Homo sapiens: one gene and its partners. The protein of the gene in region 1 purifies or fractionates together with the protein of each later gene. This does not show direct contact. Each region holds a gene or a part of one and is shown in the gene's direction. Other genes may lie near its edges. The genes, in order: PRICKLE3, METTL18, PRDM10 and EPB41L5.

The links.
Region 2: the proteins of PRICKLE3 (region 1) and METTL18 purify together in Homo sapiens (affinity purification with mass spectrometry; 2 studies listed by BioGRID and IntAct, with this or other methods). This does not show direct contact.
Region 3: the proteins of PRICKLE3 (region 1) and PRDM10 purify together in Homo sapiens (affinity purification with mass spectrometry; 2 studies listed by BioGRID and IntAct, with this or other methods). This does not show direct contact.
Region 4: the proteins of PRICKLE3 (region 1) and EPB41L5 purify together in Homo sapiens (affinity purification with mass spectrometry; 2 studies listed by BioGRID and IntAct, with this or other methods). This does not show direct contact.

The regions. Positions count from the first base shown.
Region 1 is NC_000023.11:49,176,353-49,183,393, reverse strand, and holds part of PRICKLE3 (prickle planar cell polarity protein 3), read left to right. Parts: intron 1-3,587; coding exon 3,588-3,701; intron 3,702-4,005; coding exon 4,006-4,143; intron 4,144-4,918; coding exon 4,919-5,122; intron 5,123-5,214; coding exon 5,215-5,401; intron 5,402-6,191; coding exon 6,192-6,491; intron 6,492-7,041. UniProt on the Homo sapiens protein: Involved in the planar cell polarity (PCP) pathway that is essential for the polarization of epithelial cells during morphogenetic processes, including gastrulation and neurulation.
Region 2 is NC_000001.11:169,791,993-169,798,737, reverse strand, and holds METTL18 (histidine protein methyltransferase 1 homolog), read left to right. Parts: upstream 1-3,830; 5' UTR 3,831-3,923; exon of another isoform or gene 3,924-4,661; intron 4,662-4,840; 5' UTR 4,841-5,042; coding exon 5,043-6,161; 3' UTR 6,162-6,209; downstream 6,210-6,745. Other genes in the region: FIRRM (FIGNL1-interacting regulator of recombination and mitosis), read right to left, coding at 3,525-3,635. UniProt on the Homo sapiens protein: Protein-L-histidine N-tele-methyltransferase that specifically monomethylates RPL3, thereby regulating translation elongation.
Region 3 is NC_000011.10:129,899,193-129,901,858, reverse strand, and holds the end of PRDM10 (PR domain zinc finger protein 10), read left to right. Parts: 3' UTR 1-2,148; downstream 2,149-2,666.
Region 4 is NC_000002.12:120,016,057-120,023,097, forward strand, and holds part of EPB41L5 (band 4.1-like protein 5), read left to right. Parts: intron 1-2,873; exon of another isoform or gene 2,874-2,892; intron 2,893-3,020; 5' UTR 3,021-3,028; coding exon 3,029-3,208; exon of another isoform or gene 3,209-3,212; intron 3,213-7,041. UniProt on the Homo sapiens protein: Plays a role in the formation and organization of tight junctions during the establishment of polarity in epithelial cells.

The DNA.
Region 1 (7,041 bases):
TAGAGACAGGGTCTCCCTATGTTGCCCAGGCTGATGTTGAACTCCTGGGCTCAAGTGATCCTGCCTCGGCCTCCCAAAGTGCTGGGATTACAAGAGCAAGCCACCATGCGTGGCCCCACTCCCTATTCTACCCTCCCAGCACTTCATTCACCACATGACTTCATTGATTGACTCATTCAACACATAGTTATGGGGCACCTACTGCATGTGAGACACTGTTCTAGGCACTGAGGACACAGCAATGAGCAAAACACAAAATAACATATCTGCCCACGGGCACGGTGGCTCACGCCTGTAATCCCAGCACTTCGGGAGGCTGAGGCGGGCGGATTACTTGAGGTCAGGAGTTTGAGACCAACCTGGCCAACATGGCAAAACCCCGTCTCTACTAAAAGTACAAAAATTAGCCAGGTGTGGTGGTGCACACCTGTAATCCTAGCTACTCAGGAGGCTGAGGCAGGAGAATTGTTTGAACCCAGGAAGCGGAGGTTGCAGTGAGCTGAGATCGTGCCACTGCACTCCAGCCTGGGCAACAGAGTGATACTTCTCAAAAAAAAAAAAAAAAAAATCTGCCCAGGCAGAGGGTAGATTCTGGAAAGGAGGAACACCCAATAAGCAAACCTGTAAATATATGTCAGATGGTGTAAGGGCTATGGAATTAAAAAGCAAGGAAGGTGGGGTGAAGAAAGAGAGAGGGAAGGAGAGAGATGCTAGAATTGTAAATAGGGTGCCCAGAATAAGCCTCTGTGAGAATTTAATGGTTGAGCTGCCCGAAAGGAGGTGAGAAGTGAGCCATGCAGACATCTAAGGTTACAGCGATTCACACAGGCAAAGGGCATGGCTAATGCCAAGGCCCTGAGGCAGGCGTGTGCTTGGCATATGTAAGGGATGGCAAGGCCAGTGCTGCTGGCGCAGAGTGAGCAAGGGGGAGACCAGCTGGAGATGAGGTCAGAGATGTGGCAGGGGCTATGGAGAGGACTTTGGCTTTGCCTGTGAATGAAGGGAAGTCGCAAGAGGGTTGTCAGCAGAAGACAGCCTGGAGGAATAAGGGTGGAATCAGGAGACCAGTGAGGAACCTGATGATGATGGCACTGGCAGTGCAAGGAGTTATATATATATGGAGAGAGAGACAGACAGACAGACAGAAAGGCCGGCATGGTGGCTCACACCTGTAATCCCAGCACTTTGGGAGGCCGAGGCGAGTGGATCACTTGAGGTCAGGAGTTTGAGACCAGCCTGGCCAACATAGTGAAACCCCATCTCTACTAAAAATACAAAAATTAGTCTGGCATGGTGGCAAATGTCTGTAATCCCAGCTACTCGGGAGGCTGAGCCACAAGAATTCCTTGAACCCAGGAGGCAGAGGTTGCAGTGAGCTGAGATTGCACCACTGCACTCCAGCCTGGGCGACAGAGCAAGACCCTGTCTCAAAAAAAAAAAAAATAGGCTGGGTGCAGTGGTTCACGCCTGTAATCCCACCACTTTGGGAAGCCTAGGCAGGCAGATCGCCTGAGGTCGGGAGTTTGAGACCAGCCTGACCAACATGGAGAAACCCCGTCTCTACTAAAAATACAAAAAAATTAGCCAGGCGTGGTGGCACATGCCTGTAATCCCAGCTACTTGGAAGGCTGAAGCAGGAGAAGCGCTTGAACCCGGGAGGCGGAGGTTTCGGTGAGCCCAGATCATGCCATTGCACTGCAGCCTGGGCAACAAGAGCAAAATTCCGTTTAATAAATAATTATTTAATATATATATATGTGTGTGTATATATATATACACATATATATATACGTATATAGATACACGCGTATATATATACGTATATATACGTGTATATATATACACATATACGTATATATATACACATATATACGTATATATACACATATATATACACATATGTATACATCTATATACATATATATAAAATAATTATTTTACGTATATAATTTACGTAAATAATATACGTATAATAATTATACGTGTATATATATATATATATATACACACACACATATATATATATGGGGGGGGGTCTCACTCTGTCTCCCAGGTTTGAGTGCAGTGGCTCAATCACAGCTCACTGCAGCCTCAACTTCCTGAGCTCAAGTGATCCTCCCACCTCAGCCTCCCAAGTAGCTGGGACTACAGGCACGCATCATCACGCCTGGATGATTTTTGTATTTTTTGTAGAGATGGGGTTTTGCCATGTTGCCCAGGGTGGTCTTGGACTCCTGGGCTCAAGCTATCTTCCCCTCTGGGCCTCCTAAAGTGCTGGGATTACAGGTGTGATCCACAGCACCCAGCCTATATTTTGGAAGTAGCACTCAGAGGATTTGCTTGTGGGGGTGGGAGAAAGAGGAGTGAAAGATGACCCTGAGGATAGGTAGATTAACTGATGTGGGAGAGGCCAAGACAGGAGCAGTTTGAGGGGTAAGAGCATAAGTTTGGTTGTGGCCATCTGGAGTTTGAGATGCCTGTTAGACATCTAAATAGCCACATTGCCTGGAACTCAAGGGATAAGTTACAGAGCTGGACGTATGTGTTTGTCATTATGTGTCACAGGCTGGAGGTGACACATTAGCCAGCCAAGTAGATGATATTTACAGCCATAAGGTTGAATGTAATTCCCAAGAAATTGAATGTAGACAGAGGCAAGAGGACCAAGAGCTGAGTCCTAGGATCCTCCTGCATTTAGGGGTCAGCTAGTTGAGGAGGAGCCAAAACAGGGACAAAGAAGGAGCAGCCAATAAGGTGGAAGGAAAACCTGGACTGTGTGGTGTCCTGGAAGCCAAGGGAAGAAAGTGTTTCCAGGAAGAGAGAGTGGTCAGCTCGGTGCAGTGCTACCATCATCAAGTCTGATGACGACTGAGACCTGAACAATGATTTTAACAATGGGGAAGTCATGGATGACCTTGACAGCTTTGGAAGAGGGATGGGAGCGGAAGCCTGCCTCAAGTAGGCTCAAGAGAGATTGGAAGGACAGGAAGTGGAGTGAACACAAGTGCTCATAACTTTTTGAGGAATTTTCCTGTAAAGGGAAAAAGAAAAGTGGATCAGTAGACTGGGCGCGGTGGCTCACACCTGTAATCCCAGCACTTTGGGAGGCCAAGGCAGGCGGATCACTTGAGGTCAGGAGTTCGAGACCAGCCTGGCCAACATGGTGAAACCCTGTCTCTACTAAAAATAAAAAATTAGCTGGGCATAGTGGTATGCCTGTAATCCCAGCTACTCAGGAGGCTGAGGCAGGAGAATCGCTTGAACCCAGGAGGCGGAGGTTGCAGTGAGCCTAGATCGCGCCACTCCAGCTTGGGCAACAGAGAAAGATTCCGTCTCAAAAAAAAAAAAAAAAAAAAAAGGTGATCAGCAGCTGGAGGAGGAAGTGAGGTCAATACATGCAGGAACCCTCAGCGTGTTTGGGAGCTGGGAGCTGAGGGAAATGATCCGCCTTTAGGAAGGAGAGATGAGGGAGTCAGAAGGTCCCTCCTAATGCCTTTCATTTTCTGAGAAATGGGGACCCGCCATCTCACTGCATCCCAACTCACCTCTCATTTCAGTTGTTTTCTCCCACTCCTATGTCCTCCCAGGTATATCAATTTTTCAGCTGCCTCCCAGAGGACAAGGTCCCCTACGTCAACAGTCCTGGGGAGAAATACAGGATCAAGCAGCTGCTGCACCAGCTGCCCCCACACGACAGTGAGGTGAGGAGAGAGAAGACAGGAAGGGCATGCCAGGCACAGCACACAGCCTGGGCCAATGCAGGGCAGGGTCAGAGGAGGAAAGGTGAGCTGATCTGAGGTGAGTGGTCCAGACAGGCAGGGGTCATCAGGGGACATTCCTTGGCAAAACCACAGCTGGGCCTTGGAAGAAGAGGTGGTTACTTCAGGCAGGAGGCACCATCTATAGAAAGACCTAGAAGTAAACTTTCGGGGCATGGATGAAGTCTGGAAGAGGGGCAGGGACAGGCATCAAGGGAGGAGCCTGGGAGATGCCTTCTCCTCCCAGGCACAGTACTGCACAGCACTGGAAGAGGAGGAAAAGAAAGAGCTCCGAGCCTTTAGCCAGCAGCGGAAGCGGGAGAATCTGGGGCGTGGCATCGTGCGCATCTTCCCGGTGACCATCACTGGGGCCATCTGTGAGGAGGTGAGCCGTGGAGGGCCTCAGCGAGTGAGCAGTGCCTCTGCTCCAAGCCCTGGGGAGCAGGACACATCTTCCAAGCACTGGGAAGATGAGGCCTGCCACTTAAGCCCCAGTGAGGTGTCTCTAGGGTCCCCTCTTGTGGGCGGGGTCTGTTCCTCACATCTCACTGTTGGGCAGGGACTGTCTCTAAGGCAACCCCTGGTGGACAGGGACCTGTCCCATCAATCCCACTGTCGTGTGGGGTTTGTCTGTAAGGAGGCCTTAGTGTGTTTTTCTCCCCGTCTGTGCAGTGGACATGGGGCATGGGCTATCTCTTTGGTCCTCCTGTGGTCAGAACTTGTCCTCAAGAGCTGACCCACAGTGGCAGGGCCTGTCTGCAGGGCCCAGTGGTAAGCAGGGCCTGTCCTTAGATCCTACTGTTAGGTGAGATCTATTGCTAAGGTCCCGGTGGGTGGAGACTATCTCTGTGGTTTCCCCCACTAGGCCTGGCCTGTCTGTCTTCCCCACCCCTGATGAGGGAGGCTTGCCTATAAGGCCACCCACCATGGGTAGGGCCTGTCTCTACGGCTTCCCTCATGAGCAGGGTCAGTCTCTAAGGTACCGCCCAACCCCATCCCTGGTATAGGCAGGGCCTGTGTCAAAGTTACCCCATGGGTGGGGCTGATCACAAAGTTTCACTGTGGGAAAGGCCCAAGTGTAACATACTTTGGCTGACCCCATCCATCTGACCATCTTGGTGACAGTGATGGTAACCATCTTGGTGCTTGTCTCATGGCAGTGCGGAAAGCAGATTGGAGGTGGGGACATCGCAGTGTTTGCCAGCCGTGCAGGCCTGGGTGCCTGCTGGCACCCACAGTGCTTCGTGTGTACCACGTGCCAGGAACTGCTGGTTGACCTCATCTACTTCTACCATGTTGGCAAGGTCTACTGCGGGCGTCACCATGCCGAATGCCTGCGTCCACGCTGCCAAGCCTGTGACGAGGTTTGGGCCTCCCTGCCCAGGGGTGGGAGTTGAGGGTGGGCAGGGCCAGGAGCAGGCTCATCTGACAGCCACAGATGGCCTGCGCCCTCCAGATCATCTTCTCCCCTGAGTGCACGGAGGCTGAGGGCCGCCACTGGCACATGGATCACTTCTGCTGCTTTGAGTGTGAAGCTTCACTAGGAGGGCAGCGCTATGTCATGCGTCAGAGCCGCCCCCACTGCTGCGCCTGCTACGAGGCCCGCCACGCGGAGTACTGTGATGGCTGTGGGGAGCACATCGGTGGGTGAATGCTGTGGGACTGGACAGAGGGATGGATGGACAGCTGGGCCACAGTCCTACCCCACCAGGACTCCTCCTGTCCTCCAGGCCCCATCCTCCATTGTGCCCTGTACTTTGTCCAGCCCCAACACTATAGACCTGTACGCTTGGTTGCAAGTCCCACTCCCAATGTCCCCACTATGCCATGCTTTCTAAACCCCACCTAACACAATGCTAGGCCACCACCACATGTCTACACCCACCTCCAGAGGGTGCTCTAATTCCAGCCCCAGGGCTCGCCCTACTCCTAGCCTCTACCACCCCAAGCTGTGCCCCGTTCTCCTCCACTCTCCTGTATCAGCCTAAGTCAGGCCTAGCTTCTAGCTACACCCTATCCTCTGAGAACCACTCCTTTCTCAACAGGGCCACTCCCCACCTGCTAAGCCCTGCCCCCACCAGCCAGGCCTCCTCTTCAGGCCCAGCTTTCCATTCTCCTTCCACTTGGAGCCACCCCCTAATGTCTAAGCCTGGCCCGAATCTTAGAGTCCAATGCCCACCCCGCTCTGGGAGAGAGCACCCTGGGAAAGAAAGGGAGGAGTGAGAGAGAGGTTCACCAGCCAGTCTCCAGGAGAGAACCAAAACCTGTTTCCTGCTTTCTCCAAAAGGGCCCCATTCTGGAGGAGGGAGGAAGGCACCCAGGGGTGCCCTGCCTCGGATTCCCCACCTCTTCTTGAGAAGGGACTCGTTCACGAGGGGTGGGGTTACGCCTGGGGGTTCTGCCTCAGTTTTTCCCCCTCGTCGTTCCCCACAGGCCTGGACCAAGGCCAGATGGCTTACGAGGGCCAGCACTGGCATGCCTCAGACCGCTGCTTCTGCTGTAGTCGCTGTGGGCGGGCCCTGCTGGGCCGCCCATTCCTGCCACGCCGAGGCCTAATCTTCTGCTCTCGAGCCTGCAGCCTTGGGTCCGAGCCCACAGCTCCAGGGCCGAGCCGCCGCAGCTGGAGTGCCGGCCCTGTCACAGCCCCACTTGCAGCCTCCACAGCCTCTTTCTCTGCTGTGAAGGGGGCATCAGAGACCACCACCAAAGGCACCAGCACAGAGTTAGCGCCAGGTGAGCTAACCCTCTAGCCACACCCAGCCACAGCCCAGTCACCCCTATGTCCTTGCCCCTGCCTCAGCCCTGGCCCTTCCTTCTTGACTAGCCCAGGCCCTTCACCTGCTGTATCCCTGGGCCCCGCCCATTTCTCAGCTCATCCTCCTTCCCCACACCAGTCCAGGCCTGGTTTCCATCCCAAACTACACCCGCCTCATGAACCCTGGTTCCACCCTGTCAATACAGGGCTGGTCCCCTACCTCAACTTGTCTCTGCTTGACCCCAAGTTCCTCTTCCTCTTCTCCAGCCGGTCACCCTTCATCCTCTGCAGTCAGGCCCCACCCCTTTTATTGCAAACCAAATCTACTCCAGCCTATGCCACACCTCTTCCATCCGAAGCCACCCCGGGTGCCCTGGCCACGCCCCCCACACCAGTCCCATCTTGCTCCGTGTTCTTCCTTCCAACCCTCTCAACACCCAGAGCCTGCTCCAGGCCTCACACTTCCCAGACTTCCCACCTCCCTGCCATTCTCCGACCCCTGCCCCCACTTTCCCAGTCTTAGTGGAG
Region 2 (6,745 bases), on another chromosome or scaffold:
ATTGTGAAAACACATTAAAGAAATATTTTGAAAATTGCCCAGGGACAAACTTGCCTTTTCAAACTATGCATAGTCATGAAATATTTTTGACAGATGAGAAACAATGCTACAATAATCCACAGGTTTATGATTTATTTATTTATTTTTTTTTAGAGAGAGGGTCTCGCTCGGGGCCAAGTGGGGTGGCTCACACCTGTAATCCCAGCACTTTGGGAGACCTAGATGGGCGAACAAGAGGTCAGGAGTTGAAGACCAGCCTGGCCAGTATGGTGAGAACCCGTCTCTACTTAAAATACAAAATAATTAGCTGGGCATGGTGGCGCACACCTGTAATCCCAGCTGCTCAGGAGGCTGAGGCAGGAGAATCACTTGAAACTGGGAGGCAGAGGTTGCAGTGAGCCAAGATCGCGCCATTGCACTCCAGCATAGGCGAGACTCCGTCTCAAAAAAAAAAAAAAAGAGAGACGGTCTTGCTGTCACCCAGGATGGAGTGCGGTGACATGATCACACCTCACTGCAGCCTCAAGCTCCTGGGCTAAAGTGATCCTCCCATACCAGCCTCTCAAGGAGCTGGGATTAGAGATGCACACCACCATGCCCAGTTTGTACTTCCGATTTCTATTACAAGAAATTTTTCTTTCCTCAACATTTCTATTGTACTTAATTTATACCTAAGTCACTCATCACCTTCTATCTTTTTTCATATTACTTACATACCTATCTTACCAACTTTATTTGACTGAAATTCTTCTGCACATAGCAGCTTACAAATACACGACAATAAATTCTTCATATACACCATCAAGAATAATTGTTAGAATAATTGTTAGAAATGTTTTACTGTAACAACACCATAAGAATCATCAAAGAATGTTAATAAGAAAAATGAATAACCCGGCCGGGCACGGTGGCTCACGCCTGTAGTCCCAGCACTTTGGGAGGCTGAGGCAGGCGGATCACGAGGTCAGGAGTTCGAGACCAGCCTGGCCAACATGGTGAAACCATCTCTACTAAAGATACAAAAAATTAGCCGGGCATGGTGGCACGTGCCTGTAATCTCAGCTACTCGGGAGGCTGAGGAAGGAGAATCACTTGAACCTGGCTGCTGTGAGCTGAGATCGCACCACTGCACTCCAGCCTGGGTGACAGGGTGAGACTCCGTCTCAAAACAAACAAACAAACAAAAAAAAACCCATAGTCCTACCACAGTAATACAAGAATTCATTCCTCTTCCGAAATCTTATTTTTTACAGCAGCAATCAAAATGAGGTCATCATTAACTCAAATTTGAGTTCAGTAGGGTAGAATTGGCCTCATGAAAAAATTTCAGTAAAGCTCAAATAATTACCAGCTGTTCCAAAATTAGTCAGTTATGATTATGCAGACATGCAGGTAAGGCCTGGAAAATAATACGTAAAATGCAAAACATGAAAAAGATTTTGGGGGGTAATGGCATTGTAGATTTATTGCAAATTTTTCATTTGTTAAAATAGTGAAGCTAAAATACTACCATTAAGCTGAAAAAAAGTATTGTCTAATTAGACTCCCAAGTATTTTTAAAACATGAAATATTTTTAGCCCTTTAATGAATGCTTACTATGTGTCAGGCACTGTTCTAGGTGCTGAGGGTAACGCTGTGAAGAAAATCAACATCCTGCCTTTATGAACTTTGCAACATAATGTGTAGAAGTGGAAAATATACAAAGCAAACAAGAGCATTTCTTTTAATGGTAATGTGCTTTTTAGAAAACTGAACAGGCCAATGTGATACAAGTGTAAGACTGCGTTTGGGGGAACTGCCTAAGATTGAAGGCTCTGAAAAAGCCCCTCTAAGGAAGTGACATTTGGGCCAAGACATAAACATGAAATATGCAAAAGGCTGAGAGAACAAATCAGGCTGAGCAAAAAGATCTTGAGGTAGGTGAGCCTAATGTATTCATGAACAGAGTGTAGTTAATTAACTAGGTATGAGAGAAGGGCAAGGCTTAGATCACCTGGAACCTTGAAGGTAAAGTGGTTTAAAAAGGGAAATGACGAGATCTATGTTTTTCCCCTCTTAACTTTTTTGGAATAATGAATTATGAGTAGAAACAAGGAAACTATTAATACTCCAAGTGAGAGGTGATAAGGGTTTGGAATCAGAGTGGTAGCAATGAGGATGGAGATAAACGGATTGATTCAAGACATAGTTTGGAATCAGAAACAATAGAACTTACTGATCGGGTGTGTGAGACAGAGAGGATTCAAGGTTTCAGTTTGTGAAACCATTTACTCAGATGAAGAAAACTAGAGGAAGTTTGGGCTTTTTTGAATATGTCGTTTGAAGTGCAAAGCTAGGTGGGAATGTTGACTTTCAACTTAATGAAGTCTCTCTATAAGCTTGTGGGGAAGAAGAGGAATCACGTTCCGTGTCTCTGTTCTCCCAAAGCCTAACACCATGTCTCACACACATTATGCACGCAGTTTAAGTGTTTTTGAATGTTTTGAGGGTGGCTATTTGTTTTCAAGTTGAAACTCCTTGAAGACGGCAGTTCTGTACCTACACAAAAACTAAAAAAGGGGGCTTTGGCACCTTCTGAGATTTTGCTAATGCCTAGGTGAATGACTTCTATGTGATTACATAGGGCTTTAGCTGCACAATATTTGTGCAGTATTGAGATTCTCTCAAGTGAAGGTTACTTTTTTTCTTTTGAGTGTAATTGTATAAAGCTGGGCTCAAATGTTGTGAAAAAGATACATATACATATGGTTTACCATGAAAGGCTAGGATTCCAGGCACATTTACAACCACAAAGGCATGAGACCAATCAAGAATGTGCTGCACCCGGACGAAGAAGGCGCTAAGCGCCTCAAATCCAACAGTTGAAAGCCAACAACAAGCGGAAGAACTCTTTCAGAAAGACTCCAGCCTGGGTGAGAGGAGTGAGAACTTGTCAAAAAAAAAGAAAGAAAGAAGAAAAAGAGGTCTGAGAGGGGAAGGAGGAAAATCATTTTTATTTACTGAACATCTTTTAAAGATTTCACACCACAGAACTATGCCCTTTAATTCTTATAACGCTAAGAAAGCCCTTATTCATATTCACCACCCTTTTTACGGGAGACAAAAGCTCAGAGTATCTCGCTTTACCTCAAACTATTAAGAGCCAGAGCTATCGTCATACCGCAGGTCTCAGTCCTTGCCTCCCCCATTATCCACTAGCAAAAGTATTTACACTTAATTGCAAGCAACGAGTACAGAAAAACTGAAAGAAGGAATGGAAGAAAACGCCACATCCACTGCTAAAACCTTGGGTCAGAACACGTCCGCGAGGCTTTCCAGGGCCAAAGCCTTACTTAAATCTACCACGGTTGTCGCTTCCCCTCCAGTCCCTCACTTTTCATCCCACTCACTGACAAAGAAAAGAGGGGGTTCAGGCCGCGGTAATATAACCCAGCCTGGCGGTGGGTCTGAAGGGACAGAAGAGAAAGGTTCGCGACCCGCCCACACCCTTCTCTAGGTAGAAGTGACAACCAAGGAAGGATATGAGGAGTCGGGGCAGGACGGACGGCAGTTCCCGGCGGCATAGCTCCTCTGGCCAGCTACTTAATTCTTCCAGGGGAACCGCGCTAGCTGGGACCGCACCTTCCTGAGACATACTTTCGTCAAACAGGAGAGCTTCAAACCAGACCCGCCAAAGCCCAGACCGGAAACTCGCAGTCCCGCCAACCCTTGCGCGCTCTCCGCCGGCTCCAAAACCATAGAGAGGAGGGCGGCTGGTTTCTTGGTGAGCCCGGGTCCCTCAAGGCCGGAAAGAAAGTCGGGCTTCTCTAGCCCCTGGAGGACTCGACTCACTGGTGCGCGATTTAGGTCCGGAGGAGGCGTTGTGAGGTGAGCTTTTTCAGAAGCGCGATCCCAGGACACGTCGGGAAGCAAGCATCCCCAGGTCTGGATCACTGTAAACATTACATTCAAATGGGGAGGTGAGGGCCAGAAGTCCCCACTTCTGGGGTCGGATTTGTTCCGGGACCTGCAGCCGGAAGTGACTCCAAGCCTTGCAGCGTGATGGGAGAGGAAAGAGGCGCGTTCCTAGCCGCGGGACTGGGTGACCCGCCTCTCCCCCAAATTGTAAATCTTGTATAAAGGGAACAAAGATCCCACTTGCCAGAACTGTGAAAATTGAGGCAGATGGTATAGTGTCTAGCGCAGTAGATAGAAGATTCTCAATAAAGTTGCTTCTTATTTCTACAGGTCTCTCCAAACTACTGCAGTGCCCTAGTTTGCGTTTGCTCTGCCACCGAATTAGTCTTTACTAATTATTGCCAAATTACCCCCACTTCTATACACTTAGGGCTGCTGTTCTCGACTAAATGTTTGGAGTGAAGTCTTGGATGAATTTACACACACCAGGCCATACCTATGCATGTTTTTAAAGGGACGCTGACTTACCAAAATAAAATACTGCACCTCTTCTGTAAAAGACAGAAGTGAAGTTATTCTGGAAGCTTAGGGGGTGAATATGGTTGGACACAAATCAAGACAGCTGAAAGACAGCAAGTAGCTAGGCTGTCCTGTCTGAATATCTTGGACTTTATGTTTGTCCAGGTGGTAGTGGTGGTGGTTGCTGTTGTTCTTCTGTTTGTTTTTATAGTTGATTTTCTTCTCCCACTTTGGAACCCTTAAGGTGTGTATGAGTGTCCAAATCTCTTATCTCTCTCTCTTCCCCACAACTTTTTAAGAAAAAGCAGCTGTATGGTGGGACAGGGAGGGGTGGGGGTGGCTGTTTAATATTACACTTTAGTGAAATGTGCCATTTTGCTTTAATCATCATTTTCTTTCTTTTTTTTTTTTTTTTCTTTCCAGAGCTGCTTGGAAAGAGGACCAAAGACGTCTAAAAAGTCATTTGGAAATATCTCTAAATATTTGTTACCATGTATAAGCTGCTAAAGAGAAATTGGGCCCAACAAAACTAATTGAATAATTGAGGCAGATTTGTGTGTATCATCAAATTCTATCCAGAAGTTGAAGAATCTGAATTTAAAGATTGTGTGCATTTAATAAGAGGATGACCTTTCAGTTTAATTTCACTATAGAAGACCATCTGGAAAATGAATTAACACCCATTAGAGATGGAGCTTTGACCCTGGATTCCTCAAAAGAGCTGTCAGTCTCAGAAAGTCAAAAAGGAGAAGAGAGGGACAGAAAATGTTCTGCAGAACAATTTGACTTGCCTCAGGATCACTTGTGGGAACATAAGTCAATGGAAAATGCAGCTCCCTCTCAAGACACAGACAGTCCACTCAGTGCAGCCAGCAGTTCAAGGAACTTGGAGCCACATGGAAAACAGCCCTCCTTGAGAGCTGCCAAAGAGCATGCTATGCCTAAAGATTTAAAGAAGATGTTAGAAAATAAAGTCATAGAAACATTACCAGGTTTCCAGCATGTTAAGTTATCAGTAGTGAAAACCATCTTGTTGAAAGAGAACTTCCCTGGAGAAAACATAGTTTCAAAAAGCTTTTCTTCTCACTCTGATCTGATTACAGGTGTTTATGAGGGAGGCTTAAAAATCTGGGAATGTACCTTTGACCTCCTGGCTTATTTCACAAAGGCCAAAGTGAAATTTGCTGGGAAAAAAGTCTTGGATCTTGGTTGTGGATCAGGTTTACTAGGTATAACTGCATTCAAGGGAGGGTCCAAAGAAATTCACTTTCAAGATTATAACAGTATGGTGATTGATGAAGTAACCTTACCTAATGTAGTAGCTAACTCCACTTTGGAAGATGAAGAAAATGATGTAAATGAGCCAGATGTGAAAAGATGCAGGAAACCAAAAGTAACACAACTATATAAATGCCGATTTTTTTCTGGTGAGTGGTCTGAGTTTTGTAAGCTTGTACTAAGTAGTGAAAAACTTTTTGTAAAATATGATCTCATTCTCACCTCAGAAACCATTTACAACCCAGATTATTATAGTAATTTGCACCAGACTTTCCTTAGACTGTTAAGTAAAAATGGACGTGTACTTTTGGCCAGCAAAGCACATTATTTTGGTGTAGGTGGAGGTGTTCATCTCTTTCAGAAGTTTGTAGAAGAAAGAGATGTTTTTAAGACCAGAATACTCAAAATAATTGATGAAGGATTGAAGAGGTTCATAATTGAAATAACTTTTAAGTTTCCTGGTTAATTAACATTCACTGAGTATCCAAAATGAAATAAACAGAAGGACCAAAAATTTGAGTGTTTGATTTCTGTTTTGCTATTATTTTTTCTGAAATTTTGATGTTGTTTGTTTAGTTTTGTTTATCCAAATTGTAAGTGAGCTATGTTACCAGTCTTTTACTCACTAGGTGAAACTGAGAAGGTATCCTCGTGCATTTGATGAGATCTCCTGGGAAATCATTTTGTAAGAAAATCCGGTATTCTCCATCTTCATTCTATTTGACCTTTTACCACCTTTGACGTTACATGAAATTGTTCCCAGGAAATCCTGCCATTTCTTCTCTCAAGTCTGTGAATTTCTTCCCAGTCTTCGTTAGTTCCTTGTTCACATTAATATATATCACTAAATATTAGGTTGGGGCCTTATGTAAATAGGAAGAGGTTTTTGTTTCGTTTTGTTTTTATATTCATTTACCTTGTATAGTAAGGATCAGAATGCTGAGAATTTAACTAAATTCACATGGAGATGAGGAAACAAAGGGAATCTGTGACAGAGTATAAAAGTAATACAGAGAACTTGTACTACTTGAGGTTTACCCCTTATAGCCA
Region 3 (2,666 bases), on another chromosome or scaffold:
ATCTTGTTTTAGTTTTCAGTAATTTAACAAAGGGAGCCTGCTGAATAACAAAATTAAAATGATGAAACAAAAGTTTGACAGTGATATTCTGAAGCAAAAACTGTCATCTAAATTTTTCTTGCTGATTTTTTTTAACTTCCCTATTTTAGAAAACTATTGTTGGGCTGTTGGTAGTGCTTTCCACAGATGCTGGTCCTCAGTGGATTAGGTCAGAAGCTCATGTTCTGATAGTTCTTCATTATTTCACAAAGGTGGACAACCTGAAAGAGAAAAGGCTGCTTGATGTCAGCAGAATCTAAACCCCTACATTAAAGCTTTGCCTCCCATTCTGTGGTTGTGGTGGTGGTAAGAAGGAGATATTGGTACCAAGAAAAATTTCCAAAACTATTGAGAGAGAGAGAGAGAAAGTATTGAAATTTTGTTCTGCCTTGCAGGATCCATTTATCATTCATTGGTAAAGGATATATTCCTTGTTCTTACCAAGTGTACATTTAACTCTTGCTGACATGTTCAGTGTATTTTATTACTTTTAATGCTGTCTTAAAATGAACATTCTTTAAAGTTGGACAGGAAGGTGGCATTTCTTATTTATTAACATTTTTAACTTTAAACATATTGTGACTCATCTAGACCTTTTAATAAGACGGTCAACTTCACACTTAGGGAAAAAATTAAAATGTGATGGCCACTTCTAATAATTCAGGTAGTTATAAGGGATCTGGAAGAAATCCAGTCTTTATGAATATACTATTAGTTGGGCATTAAAAAATCAGTATATATTTTAACTTTTTGTGACATGCTAACACATTTTCAGAATAATTATTGCATAGTAGAATTTATTACTCCAGAACAGAAAGACCTTACTTCATTTCAAATGAAGTTAATTAATTTACATTTCTGGGTAAAAACTGGTTCTATAAATTAAGTAGAGTAGCTTCTTTATGATAAAGACAATTTTCTGAAAAGTGAACAATTCTGTTAAAAGAACTTTATTGATGTGTAGATTTCGCACTTTATTTCTGAGACTGCGTTCATGTAGTTGTTCCCCAATGTTTGAGTACTAAGAGAACTTGAGAAAATTACTTCATAAACATATGGAAACTGAAAATGGACTCTCTTTGTGACAAAGATATTCAACAGAAAATATTGACCCTGCATTGCAAAACACAGGTTCGGGTTCCCTAAGTCCCACAGTGTAATGATTACAAATATCCTAGTGTCCGGTCTAGAAAGACTTTCTAGGAGAAGACTAGTGGAATTTTCTAAAGGTTCAGTTTTAGCTTTTATAACTTAAATTTGGCCCTGTTACGTTCTTTTTAATTTGAACCATAAGGTATCTCCCCTCCCTTCAGGAATAACTTATTGGAAAACTGAAAAGAATCACTGAATGGAATGTTCATTTTATGGCAGTTGTTTTAAGTTTTAAAATACACAGAGGAAAATATTGTGGAAGGACCTCTTTGTTGCTTTCCCTTCTAAGTTGTCTTCTTCTTCTTCTTCTTCTTCTTCTTCTTTGGTCCTTAAGTGAAATAAAGACTCTAAAACTAATTTGTATATTATCAGCCAGAGATGCGGATGGCAGTCGAGCCAAATCGCATGGCTTTCAGATCAGGTATTCTGCACATTCATTCCAAGGTCATAGATTTTTAAAAGGACCTGGATTTGAAGAGATGGCAAATGATGAGCCATCAGAAAACTTAATTTGGAAAACATGTATGTAGCCAGTGTGGATATTGTGGCCTCTCTCAAGACACATTGACACTGTAGACTTCATTCAGTCCAGTGTGAGTATTTTGGAGTAGGTTGGATGTAGATTTTGTTTTTATCATTGATTTGTACCGACAGAAATAGACATTTCATCATGTAAAATTCCTGTTATTCTGGAAAAACCTATTGTTTTGATCTTCTTGTTTTCTGACTTGGAAGTATCCTTTCAAAAAAACTCTTAAGATATCTAGGTCTAAAAAGCACTTCATGAGATGCTAAAGCTGACCCACTGGTTGAAAATGTTGACCCTATCCTGTTATTTAAATGTGAACATTTATTGTACATTCAGTGAGTTATAGTGTTAATAGTCTTGTGCTATGCAGCAGGTGTAAAAATTAATAAATATATTTTTTAATAAACATGTTTGTATGTGTGAAGCTACAAGAGCTATTTTTTTTTCTTTGAAGAATTGCAACTTTTGGTTTCCAGCGTGGCATACAGGAAGCTTGGAAGTTGTCCCTCCATCCTAGCAATAAGTAAGAAGCTGAGCAAATGGAAAGATCAACATCTCTCCTTAGATCCATCAGAAAGTTGAGCCCACAGGACAAACTGCTGTCCCCAAAATTGGAAAGACAAACAGGCAAATACAGAGAATCATAGCTTATTGAACAGAAACCCGTGAGAAAAAAATCCACGATCAATAACCTCTATGAGAACCAGCGCCAGGGTAGGAAAACTTGAACTATATTTGATGAATTGCTGCAGGCTCAGCGTGGAGAAATCTGAGAGGTTAAAAACTCCAGGGAACTCAGTCACTGGAGGGGGGGTCAAGGGAGACCCACACTTTTGTGAGTTTTATCCCCAGGAGCTTGACTAGGTTCTCACAGTGAAATTTGGAGAAAAATTCCCTCATGCTTCCAGCAGAGGAAGGGGAGAAGGAACCATTTTGAAATACTCCA
Region 4 (7,041 bases), on another chromosome or scaffold:
TAAAGCACATGTGTGATTTTTTTTCTTTAGGTTATCCTTCCAGAAATAGAACTGTTGAGTAAGGAATATGCATGTTAAAATTTCTAGTATTGGTCCGGCGAGGTGGCTTACGCCTGTAATCCTAGCACTTTGGGAGGCCGAGGCGGGCGGATCACCTGAGGTCAGAAGTTTGAGACCAGCCTGGCCAACATGGTGAAACCCAGTATCTACTAAAAGCACAAAAATTAGCTGGGCGTGGTGGCTGGTACCTGTAATCCCTGCTACTCAGGAGGCCAAGGCAAGAGAATCTCTTGAACCCGGCAGGTGGAGGTTGCAGTGAGCCGAGATCGCGCCATTGCACTGCAACCTGGGGGACTAGGTTGAGACTGTCTCAAAAAAAAAAAGAATTAAAAAAATATTAATAGCATGGTCAAGTCTCCCTCCAAAAAAGGCCAACGTAGGAGGATTATTTTTTCTCACATTCTTTTTTACACTATCTTGAGTCTTTAAATGACAGACAATATCTTATTTTTTTTCATTTGGATTTTCTTGGATACTGTTAAAGGTGTTCGTTTTTATGAACATCTTTTAAATTATCTTTTAGGACTTTTTCGTATCTTGCTCTTTGTTCTTTTTTTGATGTAGAGTCTCAGTCTCACTCAGGTTGGAGTGCACTGGTGGGATATCATAAAATGTTTCTTGGGAGATATTGGTGGAGTTAAAAGGAATATGTAGGGATTCTGTGACACAGGATTTTAGAAATCTGGGATAACAAGTACAGTCTTAGGCAGCTGAAATGAGACTGGATAGCAAGTTCCAAAGGGAGAAATACCTGGAAAAAAAAATCTGGAGAAAGAGACTGGGACCAGGTATTATATATGAGTGTTTGGAACACTGGAAAGTTATCTAACTAAAATTTTAGTTATTTCCTTGGGATTAGTTTACCTAATTACGCAAGAGTATACATGTGTAAAATGTGTAGGCTAATCTTCAGTGTATAGACATTTTAATATGGTACTATCTTAAAAATCGGATTTTATCGGGTTTATAAATAAATCTAGTTGAAAAAGTCATTTTATCTGAAGGCTTCTCTTGAAAAACAGCATTCTCCTGAATTCTTTTGCTCCCTCTCCTGAGGCAATCATTTTCACATTTTAAATCAAATGCTCTTACTGCTAATTGTTGATTTTTAAATTCTAGTAATGACCTGTTGGCTTGCTGTTACGCATCATGAGGAATTAGCTCTTTCCATATCTGTATCCCCTACCTCTTATTATGTACCTCCTGTCTGTTGTGGTTATTGTTCGATCAGTATTTAGTATTTGACATTGAAATCATTAGCAGCTGAGTCATGTAGTGTATTGTGATTTACTTTTCCTTTTCTGCACAGCTTCTTGTTTTCTTTGGAATTAATAGTCTTTTTGGCTTATTTGTTGGCTTATGTGTACTTAAACTCTCTTTGTTGTGCAAATGAAACACATGAGGATAGCAAAGTGACTTTGATTTTGTGTTTCCATTTAGTGTGCTATGTTTTAAAACCTGTTTTAACTGTTTTGATTAACATTAATGTTCTTTATAGAGTTAAGGAAAAAAGCATTAAAGTACTTTGACATTAAAAAGATTTATGTTAAGTAGTTATTTAAAATCTGTATGTAATAGAATATTTGACAAAACTTAGGAAATTTGAATTATATCTGTATTTTAGCTGAAATAGGTGATTGTTTTTGTGTTTTTATTATGAATGCTCAGAAAAGAAATGGAACTTCTCAGGATTTTTTTTGAGACAGAATCTCCCTCTGCCACCCGGGCTGGAGTGCAGTGAGGCATCTCAGCTCACTGCAAGCTCCGCCTCCCGGGTTCACGCCATTCTCCTGCCTCAGCCTCCCCAGTAGCCGGGACTACAGGCACCCGCCACCACACCCGGCCAATTTTTTTTTTTTTTTTGAGACGGAGTCTTGCTCTGTCGCCCAGGCTGGAGTACCGTGGCGCCATCTCGGCTCACTGCAAGCTCCACCTCCCGGGTTCATGCCATTCTCCTGCCTCAGCCTCCCGGTAGCTGGGACTACAGGCGCCTGCTACCACGCCCGGCTAATTTTTTTTTGTATTTTTTTTTAGTAGAGACGGGGTTTCACCATGTTAGCCAGGATGGTCTCGATCTCCTGACCTCGTGATCCACCTGCCTTGGCCTCCCAAAGTGCTAGAATTACAGCCGTGAGCCACCGCGCCCGGCCACTTCTCAGAATTTTTATGATCATCAAAGGATACCTTAGTGTCTGACATCATCTTGGGATATACAAGATGTTGTACATATAATTTATCTATTTAGAAGACCTGATGAACTTCATGAATGTTTGCCTTCTCCTGCCAAATCAGTTCCTGATAAAATGGTCCGGTAAATTTAGAAAGCTCCAAACTGTGGCTGTGTCTTATACATACAAGTCTTTTAAAACTTTGAATTAAAGTAACCAGCTTTTTAAATTAATTAATTTACTTTTTAATTGACAAAAATTGTGTATATTTATCATTTATAATATGTCTTGAAATATTTATGAAAAGCCAGTTTTAATGATTTTTTTTTTCAAATTTACTTGACCAGGAGCCCTTTTTGTTTTTTATTTACTTATTTTTTGAGACAGGGTCTTGCTCTGTTGCCTGAGCTGGAATGCAGTGGCGCAATCCCAGCTCACTGCCGCTTTGACTGCCTGGGGTCAAGTGATCCTTCTGCCTCACAGCCCCTCAAGTAGCTGGGACCACAGGCATGCACCACCACACCTGGCTAATTTTATTTTTAGTAGTGATTAGTTCTCACTATGTTGCCCAGGCTGGTCTTGAACTCCTGGGCTCTAGCAGTCCTTCTGCCTAGGCCTCCCGAAGTGTTGAGATTGCAGGCGTGAGTCACTGCACCCAGCCCAGGTGTCCTTTTTAGTAGCATTTCTACTAATGTTCACAGGACTTGACTAAATAATGCCATTTGACTGACTGCAAGTTGTGGAGAATCTCATTTTTTTCCTGATGCCATCTTTTTCTCTCTGTTTTTATAGTGACAAAAATGCTGAGTTTCTTCCGTAGAACACTAGGGCGTCGGTCTATGCGTAAACATGCAGAGAAGGAACGACTCCGAGAAGCACAACGCGCCGCCACACATATTCCTGCAGCTGGAGATTCTAAGTCCATCATCACGTGTCGGGTGTCCCTTCTGGATGGTACTGATGTTAGTGTGGACTTGCCAGTAAGTAGGTCTTGCTGAGCTCCAAATTCTGTTTGCGATTACTGTCTTTGTTTGTTTGTTTAAAAGCTTTGTATTGGTAACTTCTGGATGGAAATAAGTAAAGGTATTATGGGTTAGTATAGATCAGGCACTGTAACATTCAGGTACATGGATCAGATAACCGTAGACCAAAAGTACTTGGATTGGTGGTATTTCTCTTTGGAATTAGTGGCGATTACCTGAAACATTTAAATGACAGGGCAGTTATTGGCATGAGTCTGTTTCATGTGTCTTTCTATGTGTTCTTTGTGATGGCAGCACATGATGTAGTCTAGTGGATTTCTGACAATCCTTGTTGAACCATTATTAAAACGTTGTGAATCTTTGAGAATAACAACACTTAAATGTGTACTGTAAGACTTTTAGCTTCTATGCACTTCTGTATTTTTTAAAACTCTCCTTACTTTCTTCTAAATAAATATTTCCCCACAATTTGGTTTACTTGCAGACATTAATGAGGTGAAGTGAGAAAAAGGACTTTCTTCATACCCCTCAGCTCTGACTGCCTGTCTCTTTGCTCCTGAAGTATTTTGCATTGTAGGTTTTTCATACACTGTAGTCTTTATCTCAAGACAGGCTGTTGTAATTATATTTGCATTTTGGATAGATTTTTTTTTTTTCAGAAATATATAATCATAACTCAGTGTGAAACAATCTGACATGTTTGAAAGGGGTTAGCTTATTTTTTTACAGGACTTTTTGGGTGGAGGAGGGGAAGAAAAGGTTGGCTTTTTGGTTTTGGGCAGTTGAATATTTTTCTGAGTTGCTTGCTAATACCAAATCTCTTTCTCATGTCTTTGTTCTGCATTCAAAGACTTAACGGTAAATTACATCATTTGATGTGAGCTTCATAGGATATTCCTTAATGTCTTTTCTCCCCACAGACTTTTTAGTACACACTCATCTACCCAAAATTCAATTTAAAAAGTCTCTTTGGGCAAAGTGATAGCCTACGTGCTGCTGTAATACATAATTGAATAAGCTCGGGAAGACCTTAAACTCACCAAGTGAGAGTATAAGGAATTGGAGAGTTTGTTTAAATGGATGTTCTGATTAACTTAATAATTTGGAATGTATTAGATATGTACATTATACATTTTAAAATATTAGAATATGATAAAATTAATCAAAGACTCAGGATTTCTTGAAGTGTTTTGAAGTCATCATTACGTGTATTTGTTATCTTTGTCTATAAGAATGTATATTTTTAGGGTTTTTGATTCTGGACAACTTGAAAGCATCTAAATTTTCTTCCTGTAAGTGCTTCTTGAGGGTTTATCAGACATTCCAACATGAGATATTTTGTGAGGATAGTTTTCATACTCATTTCTTATTTGATAGGAATCTTAAGAGTTTTGTTTACTATTTCATTAAAATATCATTGGATATGTGGTGAAAAGCCTGAGATTGCTGTGTAAGAGACTGGAAAGAAATTTCTTATTACCTAATGTTTGAAGTATGAAGTTTCAGGGTTGTTGATGGACAAGCTGATAGTAGGAGAGTAGAATTTGTAAAAAAAAAAAAAAGAGGTTTTTAAAAACGCAGTGCAGTATGGAGGAGAAACAACACTAGCTTTTAAAGTGGTGGAACAAATGGCTAGTTACTGATCTGGAATGGTTTCCTAAACTTTGTATGCTTAGCTGGGTGTATGTGATGCTTGATCAAATTTATAAACTAGCTGGTCTCTCATGGGGACAATTGTAGTGAAACAGCTGGAGATATAGATTGGACTTTTTGTGAAACAAGAACAGTTGTCAGCCAGGTGCAGTGGCTTATGCCTGTAATCCCAGCACTTTGGGAGGCTGAGGCAGACAGAACCCTTAGGCCAGGAGTTCGAGACCAGCCTGGCCAACATGGTGAAACCCATCTGTACTAAAAATACAAAAATTAACCGGGCGTGGTGGCATGCGCCTGTAGTCCCAGCTACTCAGGAGGCTGAGGCAGGAGAATCACTTGAACCTGGGAGGTGGAGATTGCAGTGAGCTGAGATCGCGCCACTGCACTCCAGTCTGGGTGACAGCAAGACTCCGTCTCAAAAAAAAAGAAAAAGGAACAATTGGGCCAGGTGCAGTGGCTCACGCCGGTAATCGCAGCACTTTGGGAGGCCGAGGTGGGCGGATCACAAGGTCAGGAGTTTGAGACCAGTCTGGCCAACATAGTGAAACCCCGTCTCTACTAAAAATACAAAATAGCTGGGTGTGGTGGCGGACGCCTGTAATCCCAGCTACTTGGGAGGCTGAGGCAGGAGAATCGCTTGAACCCAGGAGGCAGAGGTTGCAGCGAGCTGAATTCGCACCACTGCACTCCAGCCCGGGTGACAGTGCGAGACTCCATCTCAAAAAAAAGGAACAACTGTCTTTCCAATTCTGTAGGTGAAATCGTACTTATTAACCTAACTCTAGGTACGTGCATGGATATAAAGTGGTCATTGGCCTGTTTTACTAAATTGTCACTAAAGGAAAAAATAGTCCAGAAGAATAATAATTTCTAAAAAAGAAGAAATGATTTCCCCTTTTCAGATTTATTTTCTCAACCAGTCTACTGTGATTCTGGGAGAAGATTTAGAATTGATTTTAGAAATTGAATGAAGCACATACTCATTTCCCATTACGATAAGGGTCTAGGATAAGGGTCACTAGTGATTATAGTTAGCCGTCTTCTTCCTTTAAAGAAAAAAAATTAAATAGGGTGAGAAGGCCTTTCAGTGAATGACAAAGGTATCAGGTAGAAATTTCTATCTAATTTTTAAGTTTTTTCTTTGAAAATACGACAGTAAACTTGTTTAAGAGCTTAGTATTGGTAAATAGCTTTAATGTAAAACCCTTATAAGTTTTAAATTGGGAAATGTTTGGTCAATTAACCAATAGATAACAATTTTTTTTCCTTTTTTTAAATTGTACTTTAAGTTCTGGGATACATGTGCAGAACGTGCAGGTTTATTACATAGGTATACACGTGCCATCGTGGTTTGCTGTACACATCAACCCGTCATCTACATTAGGTATTTCTCCTAATACTATCCCTCCCCTAACCCCCCACCCCCCGACAGGCCCTGGTGTGTGATGTTCTCCTCCCTGTGTCTGTGTGTTCTCATTGTTCAGCTCCCACTTATGAGTGAGAACATGTGGTGTTTGGTTTTCTGTTCCTGTGTTAGTTTGCTGAGAATGATGGTTTCCAGCTTCATCTGTGTCCCTGCAAAGGACGTGAACTCATCCTTTTTATGGCTGCATAGTATTCCATGGGGTATATGTGCCACATTTTCTTTATCCAGTCTATCATTGATGGGCATTTGGGTTGGTTCCAAGTCTTTGCTATTGTGAATAGTGCTGCAGTAATCATACATGTGCATGTGTCTTTACAGTAAGATGATTTATAATTCTTTGGGTATATACCCAGTAATGGAATTGCTGAGTCAGGTGATATTTCTGGTTCTAGATCCTTGAGGAATTGCCACACTGTCTTCCACAATGGTTGAACTAATTTACACTCCCACTAACAGTGTAAAAGCATTCCTATTTCTCCACATCCTCTCCAGCACCTGTTGTTTCCTGACTTTATTGATGGCCATTCTAACTGGCATGAGATGGTATCTCATTGTGATTTTGATTTGCATTTCTCTAATGGCCAGTGATGATGAGCTTTTTTTCATATGTTTGTTGACTGCATAAATGTCTTTTTTTGAGAAGTGTCCATTCATATCCTTCACCCACTTTTTGATGGGGTTGTTTGTTTTTTTCTTGTAAATTTGTTTAAGTTCCTTGTAGATTCTGGATATTAGCCCTTTGTCAGATAGA